Linked DNA regions of Homo sapiens: region 2 is linked to region 1. The links come from fine-mapping of genetic effects on gene expression. A gene starts in region 1. The other region holds a variant in brackets. All regions are shown on one strand. Distances are from middle to middle.

Region 1 (4,393 bases):
CTAGGATTCTAAATTTATATGTCTACTGTTTTAATGTTTTAGTACTGGCACTGAATTTAAAAAAGCATTCTTAATAAAATAAAATGTCTGCTGGCAATGATGAGTTATGGTGATGACAATGGTGATTAATGATAGCTAACATTAGTGAGCGCTCATCATGTATCAGGGTCAGTTTTGGACTGGTTTCATCCTTACAACAATGCTAAAAGACATGTCCTGGTGTTGTCCCTGTTTCACAGGTGAGGAAATGGAAGCACAGTGAGTAACTTGCCCAAGATCACTGTCTTTGCTGCTCAGTTGATTGGGTAATTGACTTCCAGGAAATTAGAGATCTACTGACAAGGTACCCTGGGCCTGCGTGGAAAATATGACATCAAGATAGATTTCCTGGCAAAGGCCAACTTATTACAACATTCCACTTAGAAAAAAAATCTATGCACTTAAAAAAAACCACAGCCAGGCACAGTGGCTCATGCCTATAATCCTAGCAGTTTGGGAGGCTGAGGCAGGAGGATTGCATTAGATCAAGAGTTTGAGACCAGCCTGGGTAACACAGCAAGACTGTCTGTACAAAAAATATTTAAAAAACCAGCCATGCCTGGTGGTGCACACCTGTAGTTCTAGCTACTTGGGAGGCTGAGGTGGGAGGATAGTTGGAGCCCAGGAGTTCGAGGCTTCAGTGAGCTATGACTGCACCATTGCACTCCAGCCTGGGTGACAGAGCGAGACCCTGTCTCAAAAAACAAAAACAAAAAAACCAACACACTTGTTTTCTGGAAGATTTTACCTATATACTACCACTGTCCTTCAGAACCATGGGTTTTCCTTAAGTAGCAGGGAATAACCATGTTGATTACTAAGTCGCAGGCCAGAAGGAAAGAACTTGACTTGGGATTTCCTGAATTTATTACAGCGTACTTTATTTCATAGGCTAAAACTGTGTCTTAGGTTCAATGAACTATGTGAAAACTCTGGCTGGTCCACTCCCCATAACTCAGCCCTTTGGCCTCCTGACTGGACATTTCCCTGAAATATATTAGGTCCAGCTGGGCATGGTGGCTCATGCCTGTAATCCCAGCACTTTAGAAGGCCAAAGCCAGAGGATCACCTGAGTCCAGGAGTTTGAAAACAGTTTGTGCAACATAGTGATACCCTGTCTCTAAAAAGAAAAAAAAATTAGGTCCTTCATAAACATTTGTGGGATGAATGTTTTAATTACAAATTTTAATATAGGGTGTTTTTAACAGGATTTCTTTCTTTCTTTTTTTTCTTTGTTAAACAGTCACTGTGTTTATTTCCTGCCATTATCTCTGGATGTCATTTTTTGCACAGACTGTCACAGACCAACATGATGTGTGCATACATTTACGTGTGGTTCGATATACACATATGCGCCTGCAATGCTTCTGTGTGAGTCAACATACATGTATGCACACACTTACATGTAGCTCAATACACATGTACATGTGCAATGCACACACCAACATGTGGTTTAATATACACGTGTGCATACACTCACATGTGGATCAACACACATGTGCACTCACATGCAACTTAACACACACAAGCACACTTACCTGTGGTAGAACACACACATGTAAATCCTTGCATATGGCTTAACACACGTGGGCAATGTGCACATTTACACATAGTCCAGCCTATACATGTGCACATGCTTACATGTGATTTGATATGTATGGGTGTATATACTTCATTTGGTTCAGATATACCTGCAGGGTGGGGATTTTATTGTATCCCTGAGTGATTCCTGTCCCAGGCTTAGCAGTGATGAAATGAGTTTCTCTCACCCTAGCACCAGGGAGAAGGATAGGGAGGTATTTCTCTTCCTCACTTGAGCCAGGATCTGCGGCTGTCCCAGTGAATGTTTGACATTGGCCGATACTCAGCATTACCAGGAGGTGGTGGACGATGTTCACTGGTTGGCATCACCATTCCGGGGGAGAACCCTTCGACTGTGCACCGTTCTATGCATAGAGTTCGTCATGGAAGTCCAGTTCCAACATTGCTGATGGGCCAATGAAGGGAGGTGGGGTTTTCTGGGCTGCGAGGTTTTCTGGGCTGCAATGTGGAGGTCAGCCACACAGTGAGCCAGCATCCCGTGTGTACAGCATGTGTACATGCATACAACGCAGTGGATGCTGACGAGGGTGTGCAGGCCAGTGTAGGATGGCTCTGGGATGGAAGGAGCATCTCTCATGCACCTGTGCAGGTGCAACGTGTCCTCTGCTGGCTTGACGTGGACGCTCCCCAGTACCAGAGAATGGCAGCAGCTTTGTGCCCCTGCAAGCCCTGATTCGAGAGGAGGCTGGAGGCGTGCTGTCTCCGGCTGAGGATGGAGGTATCTCCCTAGGGGAAGCAGGGAGTGGTCAGCACCTTGGGGAATGGGAGCTATTAACCTTTCAACCTGGCTTGCATTTCTTTCCAGGATGTCCTGTCTTCTTGTAAAGGAAGTGGCAGATCTTCAGGCAGGGGGCAGCAGATTCTGTTAGACTAAGACTGTGGCAGTAGGCAGGGTGGGAGCAGGAGGTCCTGTCCCTCAAACCCACTACAGATGCAAGGGTAGAAAGATCAAAGGGGGTGCAGTTGAGGAGAGGGGAATGGTCACCCCAGAAGATAACTGAGTAAAATAATAATAATTGTTGATAATGTCATCCCAGCCCTTACTATATACCCATTTCTGTGATAGGTGCTTTTCATAGATAATTTCTAAGCCTGCCAATGACTCTTTGAGTTGATATCTTTAATATCTGGGCACATTTCTCCATTAATGTAACCAAGAAATTAAATCAATCTATGCGAAGGTCCATGGCATGTATGTGCGGACTCTGTTTTGGAAGCCAGGGCTATATGACTCCACAGCCCTTTTCTGTCCCCAGAAGACCACCACCTCCAGTCCCCCGCGTCATTTCAGGACCTGCCACTCTGGTGTCCTGGTTCTTAAGGCTGGTGGAAAAGTAAGCTGGGTTCAGGGACCAGCCTGTCTTGCTCAGGACCTCCAAGGAGGCCAGAGCTGTTTCTCCCGTTTGGAGAGGGAGATCCTAGCCTTTCTCAATACTTTTTGATTTCTGGGAAAGGAGAAGTTGGAAGGCCGCCTCGCCTCCTGTCTCGGTGGCGTTCAAGGTTATCCAGACAGCGGTCTGCGGGTTTCATTTGCAAGTCACTGCGCGGCGCATGCAGAAGCAGCCGCGGGCCGGCGGGGCGCGCAGATAAGGTCTGGGGGCGTGGGTTTCGGGCTGTACCTGCATTATCGCGGCTTCCTTAAGCTCGGATGAATATGTAAATCTCTCGCTGCAGCCTTCCGGTGCCGCAGTCGCAGCCGTGGGGGCCGCCTCCGCTGTAGCAATTCCGAGGGTAAAATTGATTAATATTTGTTTTCAAAATGACACGCGGTGATGTATGGGCCCTGTTACAACTTAAATTAATACTTTAAAGAGATGAATGGTCTCTACCGAGGGTGTTAAAGTTCAAGCCCAGGGAATTTGCATATTTATATTACAGCCAACTGATAGTAATTGTGGGAACGGCCTGTAATGCTGTTCGTTTGTCATTTTCAGCGGGGTGTGCTTCTGCCGGGGACCTCATTAACTCAGAAGGCCTCAGCCCCTCAGCCCTGCAGGACACGGGCTGGCGGCCCGGCGCCCAGGGCTTGTGGTCAGGGCACCGTCCTGCCTTGTGGGCTTCTGGAGGCTGAGTGCCTTCAGGCCTGGCCACCTGGCTTGGGAGGTGAAGACAGGTGCCCCGAGCCTGCCGACCTCACCTCCTGCTCGGCTGTAAATCCCTTCCTAATGTAGCCAGAATCCCTTCTTACTATGTGTGATGCCAACCACCATCTGAGCCACCTTCGAGTCACTTATGGCCATACTTCCCTCTTAGCTAAAGTTCTCCCAGAAGTACATCTTCAGACAAGTTTCCCCCAAGTGCTTTCTCCCGGAGGTGGTCCCAGGAAGCAGTGGTAGAGGAGAGAAGGACCGCACACGGGGTACGTCACCAAGCAGGTGACAGCTGTGGGCAACTGGGGTGCAGTCCTGCTAGGGATCCTGGGGCGGCACTGTGGGGCACACTTTGGGATTGTCCCACCTGGAGGTGGGGAAGCTGCGGTCTTCTCTTCAACTCCATTTGTCATTGGCTGAGGGCTGTTCCCTGGGGGTGTTAATTCCCAGCACCTCCTGCTGCCTGAGAACCTGCTGCAAAAGCCCGGGGGTGGAGAGTCCCGGATGCTGCTACCGGGCCGATGGCCTGTGCGGGATGACGGGTGGTGGGGAAGGCCAGCATCTCCTAGCGGGCCTCTCGGTGTCCGCCATCCCCACTTGTCCTCCACTCAATAGCCAGGCTGATCCTTTAGAAACAGGAGTCAGGCCAGGTCACTCTTCCG
Region 2 (4,393 bases), 48 kb after region 1:
GCTGTTCTGGATTCCACCCCAACTTCTTTCCTGCTATATTCCTCCTCACCTACTGCATTCCAGCCCTACTGGCCTCCTGACCTATGAGTTTATCTGGGAGAAGAATGTTCTAGGCAGAGGGAATATTCAGTGCAAATATCCTGGGGTGGAAATGTGCCTGTCTTGGTCCAAGAACAGTAAAGAAGCCAGTGTGGCCTTAGCAGGGTGAGTGAAGGGTAGAGAAGTCGGAGATGAAATTAGAGGCAGCAGGGCCCAGAATGAGGGACCTGCGAGGTTGTTAAAGGGACTGACATTTTAAATTCAAATTGATGGCTTATTTTGAAATGTCAGGAGATTTTGCAAAACTGAGCCTGCATTTCTGCATAGCAACCATTGGTGAGGCTTGTTCCCTGTGGCAGGGCTGTCTCCTCTTCAATTTGCCACAAGCCCCACCCATCCCTATTGCCTCATGCATCCACCTGCTTTGCTCGTGTACATTGCCTGTCTGCCCCATAGGGATATGAGGTTACAAAGTCTCCCCACAGGGGAAAGGGTGAGGGGAAAGATAGTGAATATGGGTGTGGAGGGAGAAGGCAGTTTTCCCCCTTCCCTCCTCTGGGGAGCACAAGGCCAGGCTTTTCTGGGAAGGGACTCTGGGAGGCTGTGGGTGAGGTCTCCTCTCTGACACTGCTCTGCATGCTCCACTCCCAGGTCACCTGCTGAGAAGGCATCTCTGCAGGGGAGGCCGAGGCAAGGGCACCCATGGGGACGCCTCGAGGAAATAGTGAAAATGTTTTCCCAGGGAAAGCCAACACTGCCATTTGTTTTAGTTGCTTAAATTATATGTGTTATTTATTTTTTAAGTGGTCTGTCATTATTGGTGAATGGGGAAGCCACCCAGCCTCACAATGCAACCAAAATTTTAGATATTGCTATGTAGTTATTAACGAATGAGCTTTTCATCTTTGGAAAATGTGCTGTGCATGAAGCCCAGGGGGCTGGGTTTCTTGTTATTGGGTAATTATAGCCCATGAGGAGGGGGTGGCCTGGGTCTTCAGCAGCAGGCGGGGTGGGACTTTTCAGGCTCTCTGCATGGTGGCTCAGCCATCCATTCGTATATTTATTCAAACATGCATATTGGGCGCCTACTGTGTATGAGGTGCTGCTCCAGATACTGAGAGCAATGATATTAATATAAAGAATAAAGCCACCACTTTCATCATGCTTACTGTGTGCCAGGCACTGTTCTGAGTGCTGTACCTATATTAACTCATTTCATTATCCAAACAACCCAGCAGGTAGCATTTTCCCCATTTTACAGATGTGGAAACTGAGGCACAGAGAGACAGGAACAAGAGACACTGGCTTCATGTATGCATAAGAAATTTCCATGCAATGGAGAAAAATCCAGCAGAATTATATGACAGAGAGGGCCTGGAAGGGGCCACCTGTAGATAGGGTGGTCAGGGAAGGCCTCCCTGGGGGAGGTGGTGGGGAGAAGGAGACAACTATGGAGAGATGTTAGTGCTACCCGTGGCGAATCCCTATGGGTCTGCAGAACCTCAATTCTTGCCTCATCAGAAGAAACAATCCCACTGAGTAGGCATAAGACAGAAGGAGAGACCGAGGAAAGTCTTTAGAGCAGGAATGAACGTTTATTAAAAAGTTTTAGAGTGGGAACAGAATGAAGGCAAGCATATTTGGAAGAGGGCCAAGTGGGCAACTTGAAAGACAAGTGCCCTGTTTGACCTTTGAATTGGGGTCTTATATGTGGGCATACTTCTGGGGTCCGGCTTCTCTTCTCCCCTGATTCTTCCATTGGGGTGGGCTGTCTGCATGCACAGCAGCCTGCCAGCGCTTGGGAGGGGACCATGCACAGTATATTTACTGAAGTTGTACGTGTGCTTACTTGAGGCGTTCTTCCCTTACCAGTCAAATGTCCCTGGAAGGTCATATACCAAGTAAATGCTGCCATTTTGCCTCTTAGCGCGCATGCTTGAGTCCACTTGCCCAACTCTGGGATCTTATCAGGAAGCTGCTGATCACCAGTTTCAGATGTTTTCAGCTATTGGGAGACTGCTTTTCTCTGGCGCTGGCTGCGACCAGTTATTACTTCAGAGAAACAGAAAGAAGGAAGCTGGGGCCGAGGGAATGTGGTTTTGCTGTAAAAATCTGACTGCACTCAGAGCCTGGGACTTTCTAACCGGCATGTGATGGTCCTGGGTGGGGGGCCTTGGCTGCTAAGCTGGAGGCTGGGGTCAGGGCATGGCTGGGAATAGCGGTCTCTCAGGGTGCAGAGAGGACACTCAGGCACTTGAGTTGACCCTCACTTGTGGGTGGCTGGACAAGGAGGTGCTGAGGCCTCAGGCGGGGTTTCTCAAGGCAGAATTAAGGGCCACCTCCCCCATCCCCTACTCCCACCCTCTCCACTTAGGAATTCCCTGTGGT[GT/G]TTTTTTTTTTTTTTTTTTTTAACATATGCAGATTTATGGGCTTCACCAGATCCTTCTAATGCTAAATATTAATGGCATTTGCAGTCTGGAGCAGAGGAGCTGGGTGGGGGCACTGGGAGCTGAACACATCCCTGGACACGGCTGTCTCACTGGAGGGGGTTGAGTTCTGCAGAGAGAACCCTAAATGCAGAACCAGGACCGAGGGGCACACGTTCTAGGAAGAAATTTTAATTCAAGTTACTCAAGGATTTTGTAAAGGCTGGAGCTGTCCAAAAGCTGGAAGACGTGGACTCTAGGGTCAGGCAGACCAGATTGAGTCTTTGCTTGACCACTCTTGGTTGTCAGACCAAGGGACTTAACTTCCTGTTGCCTGAGCTTTCTCAGCAATAGAATGGGGACAAACACAGCAGCCACTCATAAGAGTGAAATGAGTTAACACATGGACAGTGCCTAGAACACTGCACACAGTAAGTGCTCAATAAATGTCAGCTGTAGTCATCCGCACATTCTTATTACTGGCAATAGAAGGACTTGCCTTTACAGGCAGATCAACCTCTTGTGAGGACGGAAGCAGACTCTAATGCCCCTTGTTGCTGATTCAAGGGGCCTCTGGAAGACCCTTCCACCCTAAAGTGATGTTTCCAACTGTCCTCTATTGCCACGGGCTAAAATGGCAATGGCTTTTGCTTCCCTGCTCTGGGGTCTCTCTGGGAAGCTCTAGAAAACTGGGAGAATAAACAGATCCAGCCTGGCCACAAGGGACTCTCTCACCATCAGATGCCATTAACCAACGGAGTGTCCTTCCCCATCACTTGGGAATCACAAAGTCACCAGAATTCTTACGCCTTTGAGAAAGGGTGTGCCATGCCGGTCGGTAGTGTGACTTGTACTGGATCAAAGTCTCTCTCTGGAGGAAGCTGGGCCCAGGGACTGCTCACTGCCAGAGAACATTTCAGCCTTCCCTCTGAGACTGGGTTCTTTCTGCTGAGAGCCTGTGGAGGCTGAGATGGCCAGGTGGGGAGTGATGATTGATGATGGTGATGATGATGATGATGATGATGATGATGATGATGATGGTGACGGTAAAGATGAAAAAGAAGAGAAAATCATAAAGATGGCAACCATTACTATTGTTCTTTCTCACTCCGCTGAGCACTCACAATGTATCAGACACAGCATTCAGGGTGCTTCCCCATTCATTATCCCAGCTAATCCTTGCAGCAACCTTTATGAGGTGCGTGCTGTCGTCTCTACTTTATTTAAGAGAGAAAATGAGGCTGGTGGAGTTGAAGCTCCATGTTCAAGGCTCCAGGCAAGCAGGAGCTGGAGCCGGATTAGAGCCCAGTTCTGGGCATCCACGCCTTTAACCGCTAAGCCATGCTGTCTCAATGTAGCCACCCCAGCAGCCTTGGCCCAGTGGGCCGGTAAGGCTGGCTTGTTGAGAAAGGGACACTGGTATAGGGCATACCCTTGGTGTCAATGGGGTGAGTTTGAGAGATGGGACCGTTGAGGACTGAGGAATGTGAAAGGCAAGACTTTTTAGCAGAAGCTGCCTCTAAGGAGAGGCCTCCTTCATCACCCTGCTCAGACTGCACTCCACCCTTGGCATTCCACACTCCCTTGGTACTGCAAGACAAGGCAATGATAACCACTCGATTTCAACTGAAATCACTTGTTTTTTCCCCCTTCCCAACTGGGCTCTCCCCTGAGACCCAGGTGTTAATGAAATCAAACAAATGAAAATGGGTAAATTATTGCAAAGCTATGAACACCTCCACAGGGCCACGCCTCACTAGTTTCCAATACCACCTCATTCTGGAGGCTGCCGGAGGAGCTGAAGCAATTTTGTCCCATGGGTGAGGTGGTGGAAGGAAGGGACAAAAGAGACAAGATATTGCAATCAGAAGGTCGCTGACCCAGGCTTTTGTATAATTATAGAATTTCATTTCGGGCCAACTGGATGG

Alleles and levels. Alleles are on the strand shown, and positions count from the first base shown. SD is a standard deviation of normalised expression in the study named.
For the expression in iPS cells of the gene that starts at base 2,014 in region 1, GT is the low allele of the variant in region 2 and G is the other (moderate effect, 0.71 SD a copy in PhLiPS).

The links. PIP is the estimated chance that this variant, and not a neighbour inherited with it, causes the effect.
Region 2: its variant is the best candidate, but not a certain one, in a credible set for the expression of LINC02128 in iPS cells (PhLiPS, PIP 0.51).

What each region holds. Positions count from the first base shown.
Region 1 is chr16:50,838,043-50,842,435 of GRCh38, forward strand. It overlaps LINC02128 (long intergenic non-protein coding RNA 2128), which reads left to right and starts at 2,014. Exons shown (of 3, transcript NR_184286.1): 1 at 2,014-2,359.
Region 2 is chr16:50,885,603-50,889,995 of GRCh38, forward strand. All of the region lies in intron 1 of LINC02128 (long intergenic non-protein coding RNA 2128), which reads left to right. Among named protein-coding and RNA genes, the nearest start is that of LINC02128, 48 kb to the left of the region's middle. The variant GT/G (reference allele first, on the strand shown) is at 2,428.